Linked DNA regions of Homo sapiens. The protein of the gene in region 3 purifies or fractionates together with the protein of the main gene of each other region. This does not show direct contact. Each region holds a gene or a part of one and is shown on either strand. Other genes may lie near its edges.

What was found.
Region 1: the proteins of TNFSF13B (region 3) and NCAPG purify together in Homo sapiens (affinity purification with mass spectrometry; 4 studies listed by BioGRID and IntAct, with this or other methods). This does not show direct contact.
Region 2: the proteins of TNFSF13B (region 3) and IPO8 purify together in Homo sapiens (affinity purification with mass spectrometry; 4 studies listed by BioGRID and IntAct, with this or other methods). This does not show direct contact.
Region 4: the proteins of TNFSF13B (region 3) and SAAL1 purify together in Homo sapiens (affinity purification with mass spectrometry; 4 studies listed by BioGRID and IntAct, with this or other methods). This does not show direct contact.

What each region holds. Positions count from the first base shown.
Region 1 is NC_000004.12:17,841,942-17,845,365, reverse strand, and holds the end of NCAPG (condensin complex subunit 3), read right to left. Parts: exon of another isoform or gene 3,057-3,424; coding exon 2,987-3,056; exon of another isoform or gene 2,065-2,986; coding exon 1,941-2,064; 3' UTR 501-1,940; downstream 1-500. UniProt on the Homo sapiens protein: Regulatory subunit of the condensin complex, a complex required for conversion of interphase chromatin into mitotic-like condense chromosomes.
Region 2 is NC_000012.12:30,692,855-30,700,046, forward strand, and holds the start of IPO8 (importin-8), read right to left. Parts: upstream 3,016-7,192; 5' UTR 2,794-3,015; coding exon 2,710-2,793; intron 2,474-2,709; exon of another isoform or gene 2,157-2,473; coding exon of another isoform or gene 2,124-2,156; intron 1-2,123. UniProt on the Homo sapiens protein: Involved in nuclear protein import, either by acting as autonomous nuclear transport receptor or as an adapter-like protein in association with the importin-beta subunit KPNB1.
Region 3 is NC_000013.11:108,265,122-108,272,718, reverse strand, and holds the start of TNFSF13B (tumor necrosis factor ligand superfamily member 13B), read right to left. Parts: upstream 3,002-7,597; 5' UTR 2,824-3,001; coding exon 2,485-2,823; intron 2,380-2,484; coding exon 2,295-2,379; intron 1-2,294. UniProt on the Homo sapiens protein: Cytokine that binds to TNFRSF13B/TACI and TNFRSF17/BCMA. TNFSF13/APRIL binds to the same 2 receptors. Together, they form a 2 ligands -2 receptors pathway involved in the stimulation of B- and T-cell function and the regulation of humoral immunity.
Region 4 is NC_000011.10:18,089,074-18,096,110, reverse strand, and holds part of SAAL1 (protein SAAL1), read left to right. Parts: intron 1-3,786; coding exon 3,787-3,866; intron 3,867-5,617; coding exon 5,618-5,677; intron 5,678-5,820; coding exon 5,821-5,936; intron 5,937-6,600; coding exon 6,601-6,781; intron 6,782-7,037. UniProt on the Homo sapiens protein: Plays a role in promoting the proliferation of synovial fibroblasts in response to pro-inflammatory stimuli.

The DNA.
Region 1 (3,424 bases), on a different chromosome or scaffold from region 3:
ACCTGACCCATGAGCAGTTGTAAAACAGGTGGATACCAACTACCTCGAAGCAAATTGGTGAAAGAAAAGGCAAAGGTATCTCTTAGAAGTAAATCTCCTTCAACGTTATATATGTACAGAAGAAAAAAAGTTGATCATAGCTTTTTGTCAAGTAGCATGTTTCCCATTCACAGGAAAATGTGAGCTTATCAGTTCTTTCTCTGTATTTTAAATCTAAGTCTGTGGGCTTTAAGAGCAATGGCACAATTGCATGTTTACTGTTCAGCAAATCTGTGCCTCTTGATAGAGAAAAATACTATGTGGTTTCTGTAAGTTACCAGTTTTGAATGAAAAATGGTAAATGGATTTACATCTGTTTTATTGTACCTTAGCCTTTTATTTTAAAGTTAAAGGGATGACTTTTAAAAGCAGGACATTCCCTACCTTTAATAGTGCAAAGCACAGTTTCAGCAATGGCTACATGACTATGTCTAAAAACTGAATACTCAGAATACTAAAGGTTTGGTGCTTAAATTTATTTTTCCCATGCCAGAGAAAGCAAGCTTTGGTATGGTAAACCACATGAGAACATGGCTCCTTTCTTTTTGGATAGCCTGGCCATGTGTGAATGGGATTTTAGCTTATTATGTTTCTAAGACTTTTCCTTACAGCACACTTAATGTACCTTTTCAGTCCTTCTCCCAACCCCCTGCAAATTGTCTTTAAAACAACAACACATAAGGAATCTGAAGCACAGGAGAACACAGAGCCAACAAACAGAATGAAGAACAATCATCTATTTTTAACTGACTTTCTATCATTACCATTTTTCCTTTTGCTTAATAACTATCTTGCTTTGAAACTTTGACTCCTTTTATAAGTTCTATGAGGCACATATGTATAGCAATTTGGTTCTAAAAACCAGTGATCTTACTTTAGCTCCATCTTAAAATTTCACCTTAAGTAAATGGCCTCTAGTAGATGATAAGCCTAAAAAAAGCACAATTATTAAAACAAACAGATCCATGTTAGGACATTTCTGAATAATAAAGAGAAAAGGTGTTTCGTTGGGTATTGCAGAAAAGAGGACCAATTTCATATAGTACAAGTTTCGTAAGTCAGGCCAAGTGTCAATTTCAAAAGACAAGAAATGAAATTGACAGTGAATAGTGCTCATAAATTGGTAGCGTATATAAAGAGAAGTTCCTGTCACATTATATTCCCACTAGAATTATTATCCACAGTAAATAAATATTATTTTGTTATGCCAAAAATATAGCGAGCAGCTTCATGGTTAATAATACATTTATGTTGACACCTCCCTAATCCAGGAAACATTCACAAACAAGGACTCCCATATACAAATACTTTAGGAAGAGAGATTTCCCAGGCAGATATCACCAAAAATGTTTTCACTGTAGGAATCACAAAATAAGTTTTTGTCAAAATAACTGTTGTTGAACGTTATACTGGTCTTCCTCACTGGTGATTGATAAGCTCCTTTCTAGCCAGTTTGTGGTACTTCCTTCATTTTCCCTAGAAATGTTACTTGTTAAATGTGTCCTCAGGCGGTTTCATCTTTGTTGATTCTGCCCATCTAAGTCATAAGCTTCTCAAATGCAAGCTACTAGCTAGTTACACTTGTAAGTTTTCCATAATGACATGATTTTAAACATAAAGAGTTCATAAGAATCACTTGGAGAGACTATTTAAAAATGAGATTCCTAGGCCCACCTCAGATTGTGATAAATCTGTGTGACTGACTGATGCACACTTTTTCTGGACTATAATAACTGATGCTGCTCTACTGCTTTAATACAGGCCAAAGTAACGTGGAAGCGCACAGCAGAAAATCTTCAGAAAGACATCAGGTTTGTTCTGATTTTGACAAGGGTAACTTCTTCTTTATTAAAGCAAATAACTGGACATAATCTTAAAGGATTCCACCTCCATCGTCTTTCCTAACTTAGATCTTCATTGAGAAATTGGGCAAGGTTAAGTTTACTTTTTTCTAGTGCTGCGGTTTTGGCTCGTCTTGGTAGTCTCATCTTCATTTCTGATTCTGGTTCTGGAACTTCATGATCACTAAATAGATGTTGAAAATACACGAATTTAGATACAAGCTTTAAAACCAGTTTATTTATAAATAAAACTTTTTTGTTTCTGACTCACATTCTATCAGTGTTTAATTGATAGCCTGATTCCATTGACTTAGCTTAAAACTAAAATCTCAATGTCAAAAAAACACTGACTTGGCTATCTAGCAAAGTGAATCAGGGAAAATCTAGCTAATGATTTTATATACTATAACAGAACCTGGTGTTATACAGGAAAAAAAGCCACAAACTTGTAATGAAGCTTGTAATTAAACGAGGACCATAACTGTCCAAAAGAGATTTCTTTGAAACTCAAGAAGTGACAAAAAAATTAAGTTCTCTCTCTTGATTTAAGCAATAAATTCCAAAAACATAGTAAAAAACAAGTTTCCCCCCAAAAAAGACAAATTTAATCAACAGTGTAAAACTATGTACTGAAAATACACACAATACAATTTTGCAAATGAATACAAGACAGCTACCAACTTTCAGCTCTAACAGTGGCTTGACTGACAGAAGCCAAAAATAAAACACTCTACCACACAATATACCCAAATTATAGACAGAATTATTCTATCAGTATGTAAGTGTAGAGAACCCAAATATTATCAAAATCAAGAGTTTGCTAACTGAAGATCAAAGAGGAGTCACATCATGTAATTAAAAATTGAAACAACATATTAAAGATAGTACTAAAGACCATGCCAGCTAATAGGCAAAAGCAAACACGCCGTAAGAAGTCAAATGCTCTTGATGATGGAATTTTAGACTATATACCTAAGACAGCTATTTATAGTTTTCACTATCTTGTTATATATTCTCTCTCATTCGCAAGAAAATTAGTTTTTTTCTACTTGTAGAAATAAAAAGTGAAGATAGGCCTCCATATATTCTAGACATGCATGACATACCTTTCAGAGTCGGCTTCAGCAGTCTGACACCTCCTGTTCGTCCTAGCTGAAACTGTCACTTTTCTCTGTCCTTGAAGATAGTATAATTCATTATCAGGATTTATTATCAGTTGCTTTTTGTTTTTAATCTAGTTTCTAGGCTAACTAAATCCTTTGTCTTCAACACAACAATCCTTTCAACACATGTATCTCCTACTTGTTCTAGCCATCTTGGTACCAGTTATCACTGCCACAGAAAAAGGAACCCAAGCAAGATTAAAACTTAATTTATTTTGTAAGCACTAATAATGAGTAAGGGAAAATAAGGAAATTTCAAGCAAGTTAAAAGAAGGCAAATTTTAGTTCAATGTATTTGAGGACAGTATATGAAAAATGTGTTATAATGAAGTACCTCTATTATTGCTATAGCACAAAGTCTGTGGAGACTCATGAAAATTA
Region 2 (7,192 bases), on a different chromosome or scaffold from region 3:
TATACATCCCAACACTCTTGCTCGGGCTTTACTCTCCACAGCACTTATGACCTGAAATTATATTAGTTACTTGCCTGTATCCCCAGCTCCATGGAAACAAACTCTTATACCAATATCTGCAACATAGTAACTTAATAAATATTTCTGTGCTATTTACATAAACAAATTATCTTAATAAAGGGTAATGAAAATTGCATGTACACATGCATGGAAAGCAGAGATTCAAAAGCTTGGCAATCAAAGTAAAAACTTATTTCCCTACCGAGGCCATGTGAAGGATAATTTATTAAAAGAGGACACCTTTCTGGATGAATTACTTAAGCAAGGTACCTACCCATTCCTATTCCTCTATGCTGCCTCTAATGGGACTTCTGGTCTATAGAAAATGAGGAAGATGTATAGGGTTCGCTCAATATCCTGAGATAAAACTACAAATACATTTTCCCACAGAAACAATATCACAAATAGCAGTCAGAAAACTACTCACTAGTAACAGAAAAATGCTGGCCTGAAAAAAATATATAGCTCCAAATGAGAATTTATCCATTGGAATATAGGCTGTGGTGCAGAAGCTGCTTATTTTTCTAAACGGCAATTGACAGATCCATCAGTATACCGCAGAAGCTGCTCCCATTCCCTATGCAGAACATACTTGCTGAGGGGAGACCTAGACTAAAGTCGAAGAGGTGGACCATAACCACTTATGGTGATTTACCCACTCATTTATCCAACAAAGTCGGATGTTACAGTGGTGGCAAAGGACAAGCAGGCAAAACCCATCATCATAAGCATGTTTTACTACACTGTTAGGTGACATTATATTTTGTTCTATTTACAGCCAATTCAAAAAACCTTAAAGCATTTCACTATGCTTTATATAAATTATAAATGCTAAATGAGTGGTATAGCAATAAGCTACCTTTAGAAATTGCTGGGGAAACCACGGTCTGTGATGAGGTGGGACACTATGGGGCAGGGCAGAGTGATGATGGAATGGATTTGGATTGAACTACCATCAAGAGTCTACGGCCATACCACCCTGAACGTGCCTGCTTTTGTCTGAAATACCATGGGAAAAAAAATAGGATTGGGTCTTAAATGTCTCCTAGTTCTGCAGGCTTTCTCATATACTTTTTCCACTTCTATAACATCAACTGTACTTATATACTGATGAATCAGAAAGAAATGAAGGTTAGGTGAAGGGCAGGGAAGTGTAACCTGATATCAAAGGAACACCTGGCCTCATTGTGAGAAGGGGGTCATAAACAGGCCAACTCCCCTGTTCATATTAGTAGACTGCAAATTCAGCTCCTGCTTTGTTCTTCCTAACTAACCCCTGGATTACTATTCTTCCAGCCAGCCAACATACAGTACTTTTACTCTGCAAAGCCTGGGACAGGTACTGACTTTAACTTCCCCCTATTCTAAGTGACAGTCCATTTCTTTTTCAGGCACCAGTGCATTATCTTTGGGCATTAGTTCAACCCAACCTCCTCTCCATTGGCAGTGTCTTCACTCTCCCTTTTATCTCTGGGGAATCCTGCATTTATACCTACTCCAAACTCCACCTAGGTTTCCTATTAAAATAATCCCTTTCAAAGATTCCCAACACGCAGCTTTTTAAAGTCAATTCCAACAGAAACATTTACTTAGGACAGTCACACTTCAGTCACACTTCGGGAGGCACAGAATCACCTGGGGGAGCTAGTTAAAATACAACTGGTCCCACCCCCACAGTTTCTGATTCGTTAAGTCTGGACTGAAGCCCCGTAATTTGCATAATTTGTAAGTTCTCAGGTGATGCTGAAGCTCCAGGTCCTGGGCAACGCTTTGAGAACAGCTGATTTTGGAATATTTACATTTTACAAGTCATCACAACCTAAAACAGCTGTTGCTCCATCCCAGTGGTAGCTCTTAATCCCTACTTTTTAGTAAGAGGTCTGTGATTCTTAAGTACCGGTAGGGAAGAAGAAATAAGCTGGAGTTTGGGATCATTAAAATTTTGAAGTGTGGGGGTAACGCTGGAAAGACGTCAAGGCTAATTAGGAAGAACAGGAGACGGAGAAAAGAAAGAAGTCTTACACATTTTAGCATTCATAAGAAATTTCTCCAACACATCTTACTTTGATGTGTCTTAGATAAAGCAGTATCACCATGAAAACTGCCTATTCTTCCCAGAGCACTCTCCCAACAGCACTGCCCAGCGCTCCGCAAAACTCGGCCAATCGGTGTCAAAACAGTCCTGCCAACCCGACAGGAGGAGGCGGTGGGCAGCGTGCTCCACAGCAACACCTAAAAAGGGCTGGGTTTGGAAAAAAGCTGAACTCAGATTTGAACTGTAAGTAAAATTCCCACCTGCTCCCCAAGTCCGCGCACTTAAGGAAAATAAATCACACCCTGAAAACACTAGCACAGGTTGCAAAAACTGCTTCTTGCGGACCAAGTAGGCAGAACAAACTGCCCTGGAGAAGGGAGACGACACGAAAAGGTGCAAAGGTGGCCAACAGGTGCGCGAGCTGTTCGGCAAAGATCCTGGGAGCCCTGCTCCACTGGACCGGGGGGCAGCGGGGTCGGAGAGCGGGACCAGCCGTGAGGCGTCAGCCCCAGCCCGGTGGGGGTGAGGACGAGGGGCGCCGGGGAGAGGGAGCCCGGCCAGCCGGCAGGGGCGCCCCTTCGGCGGAAGAGGGTCGCCGAAGACCCTCTCCTCACCTGGTTGAGCTCGTTCTCGGCTGCAATCCGCAACTTCGGGTCGATGGTGCCCTTCAGCGCCTGGATGATCCGGTTGAGGTCCATCTCCCCGGGTGGGGGCTCCGCGGCCCCCGGAACAGTAGGCCGGACTGCAGCTTTAGTTTTCTTTTGACCCTCTCAGCCTCCTCTTCCGCGACCCCTGGATTACCTCACACCCCACCCCCCGCCACCGTCGCCACCTGCGGCCACTTGCTGCGCCACTCTGACTCCGCGCCCCCTGTCCTCCCTTTTTCCCCCCCACAACTCGCTCTCCATTCACCGTTTTACGACAGCCGGTGGGAGGCGGGAGAAGGAAGAAGAGGAAGCAGAGCTTCCTTTACGGCGGCCTCTTCCCCCGGGCGTGATGCTATGACCGCCTCCCGTCGGCGGCCGCCATGCTGCTGTACGGAAAACGGCCTAGGCTTCTTTCCCGGAAAGGAACCCGCGCTCCCGAACTCAGGCAGGCGGCCGCTATGCTTCCGTACGGTAAACAGCCTCCCGCCTCTTCCCAGGTGAGGAAACTTGAGCTGGCCGGGAGTCTGCTTACAGCTGCTTCCAAATTAAGCATATCTGGATGGTGTGACACTTTTTGTTAGTCCGAGAACTGTATGGGCATCGCAACTGGGCCTGTTCCAAGATAGACTTGTTGGGACCTTCAAATCATGTACCTTACAGGAGGACAGGGTTCCTCCGTGTGTGGGAGTCATCGTTCATTCATTCATTCGCTTTCACTGAACATTTGTTAAACATATATTTTTGAACCAGAGTACTAGGATTTTTAGGTACCACATTATAACAAGATGAATTCCATGCAAGTTAATGTGAAGGAATTCACAACCTGATAGATGAGACAAATATAAACAAAAAAAATTTACAGTGTAGAAATGATAGGGGAGTGCTGGGAAGGGAAGAGCGTGGTCCCTTTAAATGATAGGGATGGGCGAAGTGAAGTGCTGGGTAGAGGAGTGTGTGGTCCCTTGCTAGGGCTCCACGCCCACCGACCTAGGTGAGGACTGACACTCCTGCCTTCCAGCCCAAATGTTGCATTTCCCAAGACCACCCTGGCCTGCCACTCCCCCATACTGTGCCTATGAAAACCCCAGACCCTAGCAGGCAGGTACACAGGCAGCCAGACGTCCAGAGGAGCATAAGGGTGGAAGAAGAGGAGCTCGCTGGCACATCCGCAGGCCATTCACGGGCAGAACGATGCGGAGGTTGGCCTGGGCAGTCGGAAAAGAGCCCGGGCCGCCAAGCGGCCTAACTCCAGAGGAAAACCATTTCCCTTCTGGGTCCCTCATCTGCTGAGGGCTACTTCCACTCAATAAAACTTTGCACTCATTCTCCAAGCCCACGTGTGATCCAATTCTTCTGGTACACCAAGGCAAGAACCCAGGATACAGAAAGCTCGCTGTCTGTGCGACAAGGTAGAGGGTCTAATTGAGCTGGTTAACACAAGCCCCCTAAAGGCAAACTGAAAGAGCATCCTGTAACACACACCCACTGGGGCTTCAGGAGCTGTAAACATTCACCCCCAGACTCTGTCAAGGGGTCGGAGCCCCACAGCCTGCCGGTCTGTATGCTTCTCTAGAGGTCTGAGCAGCGGGGCACTGAAGAAGCGAGCCACACCCCCAATGCACGCCCTGTGAGGGGGACAAGGGAACCTCTCCCATTTCAGAAAGACAAAGGTCACAGAAACTGAAAACTACATCCCTGAGAGTTTTATGAAAAATTTTCAGACCTTCTCAAAAATGTAGTGAAAGGTAAGCAGAAAAGTTATACTGTTTCTATCCACTGTGGCCATATCTGGCGCCACAATTTCAATGGCATGAAAATATCAAGGAGCTGGTTCTTCCTGAGGTTAACCCAGAAGAGAGGGTTCTAATTACATTTAATAAAGATGATGATGTGGGCAAAACACAGCTGAGGGGCTGTGATCTTTTCAGGAGCAGATAATTAAGATAGATTGGGTCAATTAACTGAGTTCAATTGAGAGAGTAGAAAACATGTGGCTGAAAACTTGGTGGCTTGAAAGCTTCCCCCTCAGTTGGATGCAAAAGTGCTTCACAGTGAATTTAACATGTCTAATTGCTTCCAGTATTGCCCCTCTTTAATCCATTATTCACACTATCATCAGAAGAAAGTTTCTGAAAAGTTAATATTACTATGTCTCTTCCTTGATTTCTCATCAATTTCAAAATAAAATATAAACTTAGCACTCCAGAGTCTTATGAACACTATTTCACTAAACCACTCTCTTGGACATCATGAATGTCTAAAAAATTTTTTATCTCTGAAAATCTTAACTCCAATATCCTCTTTTATAATTAGAACTAATTCTTCCATTTCTCTCTTCCTCAAAAATTCTAAGCTTGTTTTCCAATTCAATCACTACTTCAGTTCTTAGTCTATCCATTACTCACTACACATCATTCTCTGCTATTAAACCCCCAATTCAGCTTCTTAACTCTAGCCTTGACCCACTGTGCAAACTGATATCAGATGTATTCTTTAATCAGATGCAACCATCCTATTCCTATTCCTTGCCTTTAATCAGCAACATCTTCCATTCCCTCAGTGGCGTTTCAACTCTCAGGACTCTTCTCAAGCTCCCTACGCCTTCTCACCAAACCCTGCAAAGATGAGCAAAACCCTCAGGCTCAACTCAACAACAAATTCATCTCCGCTTATCCCTCTTCATCTCCTCTGCAGTCTGAACCCCATTCTCTCCCATCTCCTCCAGGACCCTGTTCCATAAATCTCTCCTCTCTTAAATACATTTTTTCATTAAAATAAATTTTAGTCATTATAATGTGCTCATTGTTGACAATGTGTAAGTTTTTTTCGTACTTTTTCAGCCTCTTTTCCTCCACTGATTCAACCTCAGCCTAAAAACATTTCCCCCAGCAAAAAAATAATCTTCAGTAATGCTAATTATTGCTCATTCTTTTCCACTTCATTCCAAAGAATGGTCTTCATTCACTGTGTCAGCTTACTTCCCATTCATGCTTCAACCACCTATCCCCAGGCTTCTCCCCCTCATTTCCCACTAAAACTGCCAAGCAAAGATGAACACCGACCTCTTTAGGGGGTATACCAACTGCAAGAGACATTTTTAGTTCTCAACTTAAATTTTCTCTCTCTCGCGCGCGCGCGCGCGCGCGTGTGTGTGTGTGTGTGTGTGTGTGTGTGTGTGTGTATGTATAGAGAGAGAGAGAGATTGAGAGATTGGGGGAGGGCGTCTCACTTCCATTGCCTAGGTTGTAGTGCAGAGGCATGATCACTGCTCACTGCAGCCTCGACCTCCTGGGCTCAGGTAATTCTCCCACTTCAGCCTCCCAAGTAGCCGGGACTACAGGCACATGCCACCACGCCCAGCTTTATTTTTAGTAGAGACAGGGTTTTACCACATTGCTCAGGCTGGTCTCAAACTGCTAGGCACAAGCAATCTGGCAGCCTCAGCCTCCCAAATTAGGATTACAGGTGTGAGCCACCACACCCAGCCTCTAATATCCGGTATCATATTTCATACTATTTTTAAATTATCTCTTTTCTTGTTTTCTCTTACAGAATACATTCCTAACCCTTTGATTACTCAATCGCCCAAGTCTTCGACGCTTCTCAGGACTCTGTCCTCAGCCATCTTCTCTTTCTCATCCACCCATTTTTCAGTAATTTCATCCACTTACATAACTTTAACCATCAACTAAACAAAGATAGCTTACAAAACTAGTTGTAAGATCTCTTCCCTTAAACTAAATATATCCAAATGCCTATACATTTCTACCAATATCTATCCCTCAAATCACTTAAGGCACATGTCTAAAACTGAACTCAGCACTGAAGATGATAGATTGGAGAAGGGAGAGACTTAAGGTAGTTATTCCAATAACATAAAAGGAGAGATCAAAAACGGTGACACCACCAAACGCTGGTGAGGATGTACAGAAACTGGATCACTTATATGTTGGTGGTAACATGTACAGTGATACAGCCTTTCTGAAAACAATTGGGCAGTTTCTTTAAAAAACTGAATATGCAACTACCATATGACACAGCAATTGCACTCCAGAGCATTGGTCCTAGACAAATGAAGACTTGTGCTCATAAAAAAAACCTTGTGAGTGTATATGCAGCTTTATTCATCATAACCCAAATCTGGAAACAATCCAGATATCCTTCAGTGGGTGAATGGTTAAATAAACATGGTACATCTATACCATGGGATACTACTGAGCAACAAAAAAAAAGATACATGTAGCAACCTTGATGAATCTTCTGAGAATTACGCTGAGGGAAAGAAGCCAATCCCAAAGGTTGCATCTTGTCAAATGCCATTTATATAACATTCTTAAAATTTAAAAAATATAGAAGGATCCATGGTTGCTAAGGGTTAAAGTGGAGGTGGTGGCAAGGGGGAAGTGGGTGTGACTGTAGAAGGGCAATATGAGGAATTCTGATGATGGAA
Region 3 (7,597 bases):
AAAGCATATAAATAGAATAATCAATTAAAAAAAAGAGTCTCAAATAGATTCAACTCTTATGAGGAACTTAATAAAACACAGTAAGCTTTTCAACACCAAGGAGTTAAAAAGAACTATTTAATACATTTGGTTGAGATACCAGTTAGAAAGGAAAAAAGAGAGAGGGGGAAGTTAAAGCCAATGTGAGATGATTCATCAAAATAAACAACAGAAGGACTAATGAGTTAAAACAAAACACTCAACTATGAAAAAGTCAAAGTGGCAGGGAGTCAACTACTTAAGAAAACATGAACAAATGTATTTTTAGCTTTAATATTAGGGAAAATTTTTTAAAGATTATCACTTTACTATAGAGAAATGCAAAATGTTCAAGTAAAAAAAGAAGCAAAACTGTTAAAATATTTACATCAAAATTTTGATCAATTATCAATATGTCTAATTAGGAAGAGCTTATCCAAAATTATAAAAACATGGGACAGACAAGTGGAGACAGTTATAAATAAAAATTAGCAAAAGATAAAATTATAAATAATCAAAATATGCAGAAAGTTTATTCATATTAGTAAACAAGCAACACATCAAAATAAATGTGAGATATTGTTTTACAACTACTAAACTAGTCAAAATACACTTTAAAAATAACATGCAAGCAAGAATGTGGAGAACCGGTACACCACATTTTTGATTGCATGTATAACTCATTTTGAAAACAATATGGCAGTCGGAAGCAAGGGTGATGAAGATGTTTCTTCTCCCTAGCTCAGATATTCCACTATATGAATTTTATATTGAATATATAATTTCACAGAAATAAAAGAGTTCTGTGCAAAACTTTTGCATGTTGTATTATAGCAAAGAGAATGGAAATAACCATTTAAAACAATTGTTAGATAAATTAATACAGATATATGAAAAATACTTAGAAATAGGAAAAATCCTTATTGTATAAGTCAAAACAAAAAATATTATAGTATATATTCCGTATTATTTTCAATTATGTAGGAAATATAGACTATAAAATGCAGACGATAAAAATAATTGATGTGTTAAAATAATAAAAATGTGCATGTTTCCTAATTTAAAAATGTTTAAGCCCAGTTATTCCTGATAACTAGTATAAAGATACAATAACCAGATACCAAAAATTATGGTTTTATAAAATAAGAAACAATTTTTTATGAATAAAGCATATAGTCAAAAAATAAGTTTATAGTCAGGGTACCTCATGCGTGTGTGTGTGTGTGTGTGTGTGTGTGTGTGTGTGTGTGTGTGTGATAGAAGGGTCCCTGGTCTATCTCTCACTACATTTCTTATGCAATTCTCTTCAGAAGTGAAAATATACATAAATTATTGCATGTATTCTGTGGACTTCATAGCGTCACTGTGAAGGTTAAACGAAATAGTATGTTTGAAAATGCCTATTCTGGTCTATAGCTGTACGATACGTTCCAGGTGCTCAAAAAATATTCTTTCAATATATTTAATAAAAGGACAATAATATTAAGAATTTGTTATATTATAACTTTAATAAATGTATACAAAGATTCTTTTTTTCACCTTCAAATGAAAGAACTAGAATCGATCATTTTGGTAGGCCCCACCAACTCTGTAAAGTTCCGTGGAATGAGCAGAACATGAAGAAAGTCAGAAATCAGTAAAGGACGATTATAAGAAGACGATAAATGCATGGATCCCCTGGAAAAGCGTACCTTAAAGAGAAGCTTTAAAATCTGTGTGTGTGTCTGTGCGTGTGTGTGTGTGTGTGTGTAAAATAACCTTTTTAACAAATAAACAAAATTAAAGTACAACATACAGGGCCTTTCATTACAACCTTCACCTGGTTTCACAACATGTAATGTACATTCAGAAAACAGATGTCTTTAACTTTCTATGACCCAGGTAGTAAGCAAAGTCTAATTCTAACATGTAATGCTTTTTTTTATTTTTCTGGAGTGATGAATAATGCTTCTCACATGGGAGGGCATTATCTACCTGAGGAAACACATATGGCCCTTTTATCTCCTCTATGCTTAATGCACAGATAAATACTTACACACGCACAGAGAAATGCTTCCAGTCACACGATCTGCTCATTGGAGGAAAAAGCACACCCATGCAGCCTGTTACATTTGCCAGCGCTGGGGCTTTGCTCTAAAGCAATGTCTGCTTTGGATGGCAAATTTCATAGTCTCTATTTAATAGGTTCATAGAGGGGATACTCACCTCCAGCTCCCCCAGACTGGATGTTATTCTCTAATCCCTGACTCCTAAAAGTGTCTGTGCCCAAAACATACCTGTTTCTTCTGGACCCTGAACGGCACGCTTATTTCTGCTGTTCTGACTGGAGTTGCCTTCTCCTGGAGCTGGTGGTTCAAAGATCTATGAACAGAAAAACTTCAAGTTATTAGAAAGACAGCTGAGGCGAGGGAGAGGCAGCAGTGTAGGCAGGATCTTGCCTGCGTCTTGCAGCTGCTGCAAACTCACTTTCAGTCCCGCGGTGACAGCTGGAGCTTCCTCCAGGCCGGCCTTGGGGGCTCCTGCTCCTGCTGGCAGCTTCTCCGCGTGGTGGCCCTGCAGCTCTGCCCGGAGGCTGGCCAGGTCCCCTTGCAGGGCGGCCACCTGGTAGAAAGACACCACCGTGAGGCAGCAAGACAGCAGTGCCAGCAGCAAGGTTGCAGCCAGCAGCTTTCCGTCTTTGGAGGATCGGACAGAGGGGCTTTCCTTCCGTGGGAGGATGGAAACACACTCCTTCAGTTTCATTTCTTCTCTTTTCTTAAGGCAAGAAGTAAGGCGTGACTGCTCCCTTTCTGTGGAGTCATCCATATCACTACTTGAACTTTGAAGGTTGGGGCCTTTAGAATAAGTGACCACAGGGAATGGATCATTTCCTGTTATCTGTGTTTGTTGATGTCCTGCGTGCACTACATGGCAGGGCTTGGCTCACCCCTCAGGAGAGTTATCCTGAATTTTCTCCTTTCTGCCTTTCTGCATCTCTACCCCTACTGTACAGTAGGTTTGCTGGCATTTACCCTCCGATTGGATTGCTCAATCTGTCTTCCTCATTTCACTTTCAGTTTTTGTAAGAATTTCAAAGTCTTCTCATAACACTCATGCTCAAGTAGATTTAAAACCCCTTAAATCTGCTGAGGAAACTTGGAGTTTGGATTGGCACAGTCAAGGGAAAGCTTTTAAGATATGCTCAGGTCTGAGAAGCCCACCCTTAAGTGTAGCAAGGGAACTCTGTCTGCTTGGGACCACATGGCTTCATAAGGAAGGGGGAAAAGCAGCTGAAAGTTCCTGCTGCTGTCATAAAAATAATTAATGTGAAGGTCAGATAAGCTAAGTGTTTTAGCATTGAATTGTTCTTAGCTAGAGAGTGATTTATTAACAGTCTTCAATTATGAAATAAAATGGAGAATCCTTGAAGGAAGTGTGGAAGTAAGTCCACTGGGAATTATTCATATTATTATACTAATAATGTCATAAAAAGAATGAGAGTAAATGTTACAGACGTATTTAGGTTAGATATCTGAAGGATTCTCTAAATATAAGTGAATATATTTTTAAGGAAAACATGCATAAACTTTTTCCTTCTGGGACTCATCACTGAAACTCAATCATGCATATGAACAGCCTGTCCCAAGGAGCCTGGTCTCAGCTTTTCTGCTCAGACTTCTGAGGCTTTAAGTCCCCGCTCAATATGATACTAGTTGAGGAGAATCAGCCTTGCCTCCAGCTCCAAATGCCTGACTGCTACCATTAACCACTCTCAAGTAGCTTGTCTACAACTCCCATGTTGACTGTGCCACAGCCTAACAGGTCGGTGTACAAGAGGTCCTTGATCACACAAGAGCCACCTTAGCTTTGGATTTTTCTGTTGTTGACTTGGTGGACCTGTGAGGACTGTTGCATTCATTCTAGTCCTGCCTTATCCTGATGGCTGGTTCCTGGACATTCCCCAGTTTTTCACTGCTTTGCCCCAGCATTGAAATATTGATTCATCTTTCAACAAACGTTACTGAGCACTTACCAAGCCCTGGGTAGTCACTACTCCCCTGTGGACTAAGAATAGTGAGCTTTAGTTCTGTCTCACTCTACATTTCCACACAGTCTTAAGTAAGAAGTTTACAGAAATGATATAGTGCAAAGTGGAGAACTCCAGACCCAGGCTTCTAGACTGCAAATCCTGCCTCACCCTCGCTCTCCTTATGCAAAGTACATAATCTCTCTGTGATTCCATTTCCTCACCTGTGAATTCGTATGACGATATTAACTGTCCCTGGGATACATAATGAGGCTTACAAGAATGTGGAAACAAATTACATTTTGGATGCTTCCATTTAAAAAAAAATTATTTCCACAGGTTTTTGGGGAATAGGTGGTATTTGATTACATGGTTAAGTTATTTAGTGGTGATTTGTGAGATTTTGGTGCACCCATCACCCGAGCAGTGTACACATTGAACCCATTTTTTAGTCTTTTATTCCTCACCCCCCTCCCACCCTTTCCCCTGAGTCCCTAAAGTCCATTAGATCATTCCTATGTCTTTGCATCTTTGTAATTTAGCTCCCACTGTGAGTTAGAACATACAATGTTTGGTTTTCCATTCCTGAGTTACTTCACTTAGAATAATTGTCTCCAATCCCATCCAGGCTGATGCGAACATCATTAATTCATTCCTTTTTATGGGTGAGTAGTATTCCATCATATATATGTATCATAGTTTCTTTATCCACTCATTGATTGACGGGCATTTGGGCTGGTTCTATATTTTTGCAGTTGTGAATTGTGCTGCCATAAACATGTGTGTGCAAGTATGTTTTTCGTATAACAACTTCTTTTCCTCTGGGTAGATACCCAGTAGTGGGATTGCTGGATCAAATGGTAGTTCTACTTTTAGTTCTTTAAGGAATCTCCACACTGTTTTCCATGGTGGTTGTACTAAATGATCAGGGAAATGTAAATCAAAAGCACGGTGCAATGCTTCCATTTTTTCATTCACTTTTATTCTTTACATTCAAAGTATGAATGAAACATTTTTCAGTTACAAACAGTGCTCTAATAGATATTTTCTACAACTGTGCTTGTAACGTCTGCAAGGGTTTCCCAGCAAATGCCTGCTGAGGGAGAAGCACATCTTCACTTTTACAGGCACCACCCAGTTACCCTCTGACGAGTTCCCATTTCCTCATTGTCTTACTACAAAATGACGCAGTCAGACTTACTTGTTTTTACCATTAGGATTGTTTTTTGTTTTTTGTTTTTTTCCCTTTGCATCTGCAAGTTTCCAAGACCTTTTAAAAATAACTTGTTATTATCCTGGCCCCCAAAATAAGCTGCTCTCTAATTTTTCTTACCTATAACTCCCACAATAAGGTGACCGTGCCCCAGTCTAACAGGTACGTAGACAAGAGGTCCTCCATCAACCTTCTCAGGTGGAAGTCTTCTTTTAGAAGGATGTTTGTAAACCCTTTTGCATCAGGAATGACAGTCCAATTCTTTTCTGTCAGTTCTTGTTCCAGAACAATTAGGGTGAGTCATACGGAGTAACCTTGCCATAAAAAATGGAATTCGTATGGGAATTGTATGAAGGCCTTCTTACTGAAAGTCATTGAGATCCTTTAGATGATGTGTTTGTGTATTCTTATGATTTAAATACATGCAGAAATGAAAGGATGCAACGCAGTGCTAGAAAGCAATTTCTCTCTGCGTTTCACTCAGGGTTTCCTGTAGCCACTGCTTCTCTCCATCCATGGACATTCTCCCTCTTCTGGTGAGTCGTTCCCCTCTATATCCCTCAGAGAAAATTCTGAAGACAGGGAATGATTTGACTGCTTTAGGGAATTCCCTCTGCCTTCGTCACTGTGTTGGGCAGAGACTTTCATGCCTGAACATCTCAAAAGAGAGTCACTGGCCAGCCTGCACGCAGCCATTTTTAAACCAGTGCCGATGTTTGTTGCGGCAGTGAGCCGTGCCATGCATAAAATGGGCAAGTTCTTCTTCCACAAAGGGCAGCCATCATGTCCCTCTGGCTAGAGGGACAGCAAGCAGGGATGGCAATGTGCACATCCTCCACAGGGATCTGACAGCTGCATTTTCTCTAAAGACAGGTAGAAAACGAAGTGACATTCATGACTCTTGAATCTCTTATTAGATGAACAAAAGGAAGTCATTACTCCATAAATCAAGAATCTGTTTCCGGAAGAGGAAATGGTTTGGCAATAATTTAACAGAAATTCTGTTAAACAAGAAGCATGTTCACGTTCATTGAATAATACACCACATCACAAGTTTATTCAGGGACAAAAGGCCACTGTATCTGAGCCACAGATTGTGCAGCGATCTTATTATACATTCAGTGTTTATTGACAGTATTTAGCTGCTTTTTACACACATCTTTTTCTCAATGTAAGTGTAAAGCATTCTTCTGTCATTCAATAAACAAACTGAGATACTAGGACTTTGTGACTGACGAAACTGTTCTATCCACTCAGAAATAGGCAGATAGGATTCAAAAGAATATAACTTGTGAGTTTGTCCGGGAGTCAGAAACAGCAGAAAATAAACATTCACTCTCTGACTATGTTCTTACATTGACAACCTCAAAAATATTTTTAAAAATGAATTATAAATTTCTGGCTAAATAGTGCTATAAAGAATTACAGGTTTGAGGAATCTCTCCTTTGCCCTTTTTCTTTGAGGAAAAGCGTGTTTTCCTCAAAATCCTTTGAGGAAAAGGATTTAGACCAGTCAAGCATGGCGACAACAGCTCTTCTAGATCTGTGAATGTACTCGATCTGTAAATGTACCTAAAATTACATCTAGATAAAATTGGTATCCTAAAGCACTCAGAATATGGAAGATTTATGATATAGGTTAAGTATTGCATTTCAGGAAAATATGCTGTTTTCCAGTAGAAATATTATATATATATAAAATATTTATATATTATATATTTTATATATATATTATATATAATGGAGAGAGAGAGAGTATGTGTGTTAAGTTATTATATAGTTAAATTTGATTTGAAAGGCTAAATGTTAATCACTGTATATAATTTTTAATTTAAAAAATTTTTAATTGACACATATATATTTATGAGATACAGTGTCATGTTTTGATATATGTATACAATGTGTAATGATCAAATTAGGAAAATTAGCATATCCATCACCTTAGACATTTATCATTTCTATCTGGTGAGAACTTTGAAAATCCTGTCTTCTAGCTCTATTGAAATATATAATATATTATTGTTAACTATAGCCGCCCTACTGTACAATGGAACACTGGAAATCGTTCTTCCTATCTAACCCTGACTTTGTACCAGGTGACAAACCTCCACCCCAATACCTCCGGTAACCACTCTCCTACTCTCTACTTCAATAAAATCAACTTTGTAAGATTGCATATATAAGTGAGATTACACAGTATTTGTCTCTCTGTGCCTAGCTTATTTCACTTAATATAATGTCGTCCAGGCTCATCCAGGTGGCTACAAATGACAGGATTTTACTTTTTATGGCTGAATAGTAGGCCACTGTATTATACCACATTTTTAAAATTCATTCATCTATTGATGGGCACTTAGGTT
Region 4 (7,037 bases), on a different chromosome or scaffold from region 3:
TCAGTTGATTTCTCTTTTTTACTGACAAAATCCACCATTGCTTGAAAACCATTCTAAACTCAGCCTGCTGCTTAAGACCTCTACTCTCTGAACCTAACTCATCTTTCCAGCATAAAATCTGGATAGCCAGGTAACCCTTCTGATTTAGCCAGACCTTTCTACTCCCTGTCTCATGCTGTCTCCGTGCCTCCCTTTGTGTGCCTTCTGTCCCCTCTCAGTATTTGCATCTGTTAATTCACAGTGGTACTTTTCCTTCCACACCTTCCCAAGTAAGTAAGTAAGCTTTCAGTAGTCATTGCTGTTAGTAAACTGCCAAGAACAATAGATAAAGACTAAAGGAGAGGCCTTTATATACTGTGCAGTGTACTGTGCTTTATTGCCAATTAAATTGCCATGTGCTATGCATATCATGGATTAGTAAATATCTGTTCAATAATTATAATTATGAAAAACTGCTGTTTACTGAATACCTGGTCTTACTACTATGAGGTATACTTTCAAAGAACTAAATCTTGGGTGAAGATATGTGTTCAGGGTCACACAGCTAGGAAAGAATGGAGCTGAGATTTCAGCCTAGGCCTGACTTCAGTATAACCACTGTACTGTATTTCCTCTCTTTCAGATTATAAAATGGAGAATTCCATAGTGTATTTTTACAAATTGAATGTTGAATTAGAATTCTTATTTAAGTAGAATGTTCTCTCTGAATTAGGGCCTGATTAACCGTTTTTTCCTTGATTCCTTATATTAATATAAGATTTGATGATTATGCTATTTTTATACTGAGTTTTTCTGTCTTAAATATATTTACTCACTACTAGTATATAAAGAAATAAGCTTATGTCAGGAATGGCACCTTTTAGGAATTAGTCATATTGTTGTATTATATCCGCTGGCCACCGTCTGCTGCCACAGTGATTCTCAGCCTTGGCTGCATGTTAGAATCACCTGGGACAGGGACTCTCAAACTTAAGCATGTCCCCGCATCACTAATTGCCGAGCCTCCCTCCAGAGTTTCTAGTCCAGTAGGTCCAGGATTCCTAATATGTTCCCAGGTGATGCTGGTGCTCTGGTGCATTGCCACACTCTGAGAAGCTTTACCCTAGGGAACTTTTGAAAATCTTGGTCAGGCCATACCCTAGATGAGTTAAAGCAGAATCTCCAAGTGTGAGACTCTGGGCAGCTTTTAAAGTTCCCCAGGTGATTCCAGTGAACAGCCAAGAAAAACTTGATCTTTGATTGGAAGTTCAGTTATTCCCTCTTTAGTTTATAAGGGAAATGTATGTGGTTTTTTTCTGCCCCTACTCACTCTTAATCTTTTCCCAACATTTGACCACCCACTTTTTATTGAAATTCCATTTCTATAGCTCCTGTGTCACCTCACTGTCGTCTCTGACCTCTTCAGTCACTCGTCTCTCACCTTTCATTGGCTTTTTTCTTTCTTCCTTTTTTATACTGTCCCGAATATGGACTTTTTCTAAGGTGTAGGCCCTGATCCTTTGTTCTCATTATATTCATTTTCCTAGTGAACTTATGTGTTCTTTACACCTTTAAGTTGCAACTCTGCCTGTAGGAGCAAAGCCTCGACTTCCCTTCTGATAACTGATGTCACATCTCCAACTTTGTTCAGGCATTCTCTGCTTGCACGCTCTACAGTTGTCCCTTGGTATACATGGGGGATGGTTGCAAGACATTCCCCCATACTGAAATCCACACATACTCAATTTAGCAGTCAGCTCTGTGGAACCTGTGTGTATGAAAAGTCAGCTCTGCATATTGTGCAGGTTTTGCATCTTGAGGACACTGTATTTTCAGTCCAAGTTTGGTTAGAAAAAATCCACCTATGAGTGGACCCACACATTCAAACCTGTGTTCAAGGGTCAGCTGTACTCTCTAACCCTGAATTCTGTATGTCCTCAGTGATTTATGGTCACACTTATCTAATCATAAAAGTCACCTGGTATATGCTGGGTAAACAATAGCTTTCCAGGCTCTACCCTGGAAATTATGATTCAGTAGATCTGAGATGAGATTTGGAAATCTGTATTTTTAACAAGCTCCCTGAGTGATTCTTATGTTCCAGCAAGGTTGGAAACACTGTACCATCTGAACTCATTGTAGCCTTTTATGCACTTTCTTTTTTAGTTTTCCTGTCAACGGGACCAATATCACTGATGGGGAAATGAGGCAACTTGAAAGCTAGGAGTCAAGTTCAACTGCTTTCTCCTTTATCCTCACACTGGATTATTTTGCTTTCACCTTGAGAGTCTTCCTCAGCTTCATCCTTTTCCATGCCTGAGGGCCCTCCTCCTCTTGCATCTTGATAACTGAGGTGCAGTTTGGAATAGTGGTTAAATGCTCAAGCTCTGGAGCTCTGCCGTGTTCTAGTTGGAGATCTTAAGATCTTAGGCAAGTAGCTTAACTTCTCTGTGCCTTAGTTTCCTCATCTGAAAAAATGGGGATACTATTAGTACCTATCACCTAAGTTATTATATGAAATTATACACAGAAAATGCTTAGAGTAATGCCTGGCCACCGTGAGTGGTAATAAACTGTTATTACATATTAATTAACTATTACTGAGATAGATTCTTAAGTTCTTTTCAACTTCTTTTCCCTATACACTAGTCTCCCCTTATCCTTGGGGGTTGCATTCCAAGGCCCCCAATGCCTAAAACCGAGGATAGTACTGAACCCTATTTATAATATGCACAAATTTCCTTTTCCTTCTTCACAGTTTCATGGATAGATTTGTTCTTAGAGATCCTAAGCAACCTCAGCATACATTTTTGTTTGTTTTTCTTATGAAGTCAAGAACTTTTACCTTTTCATGTAAAGAAAGCACTTAATGGCGGCTCCTTGGCATATCCAAATTGCCAGCATCACTACTCTTGTGCTTTGGGGTCATTATTAAGTAAAATAAGGGTGACATGAACACAAGCCCTGTGAGATATCCCGATGGTCGATCTGATAGCCAAGATGGCTACTAAGTAACTAATGGGCAGGCAGCACATACAGTGTGGATATGTTGAACAAAAGAATGATTCACATCCTGGGTGAGACGGTGCAAGATTTCATCGTGCTGCTCAGAAAGGCATGCAATTTAAAACATGAATTGTTTATTTCTAGAATTTTCTATTTAGTACTTTTATACCAAGGTTGACCATGGGTAACTGAAACCATGGATAAAGAGGGACTACACTAATACATTATGCATTTCGCCACCAGAGTAATCTTCCTAAGATACTGTTTCAGTATGTTGTCTCCCCTCCTTGAGCATCTTCATGATTCCAAATAACTTCCCAGATTAAGTCTAATTCTTCAGCACGGCATTCAGAGCCCTTAATCTCAGTCCTTTATACCTGCAGTATTTACCTCATGCTGTTCACCCACTTTGTGCCACAACCAGAGTACTTTATTGTCTACAGTATTCGCCATGTACATGATTCCCTTCCTGCCTTTGCTGATACTTTCCCCTTATTTGAATGTCTGTCTTTTTGTTTGCATATCTCATTCCTATCAATCATTTAAAACTCATTTTATCGATAGAAGTTCTTCTCGCATAGCTCCTGCCTTTGCCCTTTCTTGTTCTTACGTTTTTCATCCCTTCTCAAATACTGTAAGCTTGTCAAGGTTAGGGTACAGGCAGTATATGTATTTCTTTATCCTGCCTCCCCTCCGCCTTGCCCCAAAACTTGGCTCAGCGAAAGTTTTTGTTCAAGTTGATATTTTTGTTTACGTCTTTCGTCTCAGAGCCATTGTGACTTGTAAAATTTGATTTGGCAGGAAATCTGTGTGGGAATTTTAGGTAATATGGCCTGTTTCCAGGAGATATGTGTGTCCATCAGCAGTGATAAAAATCTTGGGTAAGTCTTACTATATAATTATGTTTTTTAATATATTCATTTATATCCTTAAGGAAATTCTAATACATAGGAAAAGTAGCAAATCTGAAAGACAGTCCTTTCTTTGTCTTGATGAACACTCTGTGGGAACTTCATTGTGTGTTGATGATAGCTAGGGGCTTCTTCAGGAGATACTGAAATGATTCAGGATTTAAGCCTGTTTTCTTCAGTAGCAAAGGAACCTGAATTGTCAGCTGGTGGCAATAAGCCAGATAGGGGAAGAACCAGTGGGCCAAAACTTGGAGATGGGGCAGCCAACTGGAATCCAAAACAGTTTAGGGGCAGGGAATCCAATGACTCAGCTGGAGTCTACAGAAACTAGATTTGTTGAATAATGTCATCCTGAGAGCTCTGACTTAGAGTGTAAGACTTGCCAACAACTGGAAGATAAAGGGTTGCCTCTCTGATGAAAAGACTTTCAGATATCTGCTTCGAGGCTCGTTCTCTTCTCCATGTGTAAAGTTCTGGGCAGAAGGTGTTTTAATGGAGGAAACCCCAGTGGTTACTGTGTTCGGAGAACACCCCGAAATTATATGCTGAATTTTGTGAGTGTATTAGTTTTCTAGGCAAAGGGTTCATGGCTTTTAATCAGAATCTCAAAGAAATTTGTACCCAAAATAGGTTAAGAAAACTGTTCTAGGCAGTTTTTGTCAGAGCTGGGGCCATGAGGGTTTTATCACAGGATTCAAGTACCTGGGTTTCTCAGAAAGAGAGAACTCCTAGTTGTGGAGGGACTTTAAGATCCTAGTTCAGAGTATTTATTCCTCAGTAATTTACCATCATCCATGGAACAAATGACTTAAGATTATGTTTGGTCTCTAATGTTCTCTATCAAAAATCCAAAAATGAGAAATGTTAACAAATGTTATAAATTCAGTTAAATGCTTGTCTTAATATTAGTGTGGTGCAATTTATATTGCTGATGGGATATAAATTTGTTGAACCACTTTAGTTGGGCATTATCTGGTCACGTTGGAACATATGCATGTGCTGTGACCAGCTCATAGTGGGCATATATGGTAAGAGAAACTGTGCACGTGTGCATCAGGATAACTCTTAACAAATATTGTAGGAGGATTGCTTGAAATAGCCCCAAATTGGAATCAACAGAAATGTCCATCAACAGTAGTCTGGAAAAATAAATTGTGTTATTTTCACACAATGGAGTGCTCTGCAGCAGTCTGTCAAAGAATAACAGCTAAAGAAACAACATGGGTAGATCTTACATGTATAATTTTCAGCAAATAAATGAAGACTCAATAAGTATAATTTATTTCATATGTTGTCTCCCCTCCTTGACTGTCTTCATGAATCCAAATAACCTCCCAGATTATGTCTATTTATTCAGCATGTCCTCTTAATCCTTTTACCTGCAGTATAAAGCAACACCAAAATATATAAAATAATAAAACTATAGTGCAAAGTAAGGAAATGATTGCTGGAAAAATCAGAATGGTCATCATTTCTAGGTGGGAAAGAGAATTGTGATTTGGAATGGACACATGGTGACTACAAAGATGCAGCTCTGTTCTGTTTCTTGGAAACACGAGTGTTTGCTTTATAATTATTTATTAACTATAGATTTGTATCTTTTGAGCTTTTCTGAATATATGCTGTATTTCACAATAAAGATGTTCAAAAAATTAAATGAAAACTCTGATATTTTAAATGCGAGAAGTGAGGCATATCGGTTAACTTCTTTGTTTTTGTAGGCAGGTGTTATTGCACTGTTTGTATGATTCAGACCCACCTACTCTGCTGGAAACAAGCAGGTATGCTTTTCCTTTTATGAATTCTATAAGGTTACTCATAAGAGTAGATAAGAAAAAAAAGTTAATTTTTTATTTTCGAATTTCCTTTACTGTTTTTTTTTTTTTTTTGAAAAGTAGAAATTCAACCCACGTTTACCATGTAGGTTGTTGCTTACTTGCCTTTCCCAGGCAGAAGTGGCCAGTGTTTGGGTTGAAAGGATCCAGGAACATCCAGCTATTTATGATAGCATTTGCTTCATTATGTCAAGTTCAACAAATGGTAAGTCATCATGTACTCTAGAAAAAAAATGTTTTAAATTGTATCTAATTTTTAGGAAACCATGTAACTATTTCTAGAAGTCACCTTTTTAAAAAAAGCCTTGAGTGCAAGGTAATGAAGTTTGTTTGAGACAGAATCTTGCTCTGTCACCCAGGTTGGAGTGCAGTAGTGTGATCATAGCCTACTACAGCCTCAAACTCCTGATCTCAAGGTATCCTTCTGTTAATCTCCCCAATAGCTGGGACTATAGTCATGCACCGCCATGCTCAGCTCATTTTAAAATTTTTTGTAGAGACGGGGTCTCGCTTTCTTGCCCAGGCTGGTCTCCAACTCGTGTGTTCAAGCAGTCATCCAGCCTTGGGCTCCCAAAAGTGTTGGGAGTATAGGTGTAAGCCACCATGTCCAGCTTTTTGTTTGTTTTTTTGAGAAAGTTTTTTGATTGAAGATACAAAATTTCTTAAACTCCTGGGACACTGATAAATTCCTCATTTAAAAATGAGGAAAGATAAGCAAATTTAAACATAAAAGATAAGTAAATCACCCTTTAGAATAAGTACTGCTTTGGCAAGATTTGGTTTTCTTAGAATAGCTTTAGGAATTTTGCTTAACCCTATTGCTTTTAGCAGTTTGTTTTTCATTTCAATATCTGTTTTATTCTCTGCAGTTGACTTGCTGGTGAAGGTGGGGGAGGTTGTGGACAAGCTCTTTGATTTGGATGAGAAACTAATGTTAGAATGGGTCAGAAATGGGGCTGCTCAGCCTCTGGACCAACCCCAGGAAGAGTCTGAAGAGCAGCCAGTGTTTCGGCTTGTGCCCTGTATACTTGAAGCTGCCAAACAAGTACGGTAGGTGAGCTCTTTTGTGTAAAATGTTCTGGGAAAATGCAATTGCTAGAAGTATTCTCAGATATAAAAGTCTTCTTATATTCCTTACAACAGAATAAAGTACATAGTCACTCCTTGTTACGTTAATTCACTACTACTATTTGTGATGCAACCTGTATAGTGGTTACAAAGTTCCTGTTATATTATCATTTAGCTATAGGCTGTTACTCAACATTAACTGTGGTTTCTGTCTTACCATATTTTATGTAATTTAAAT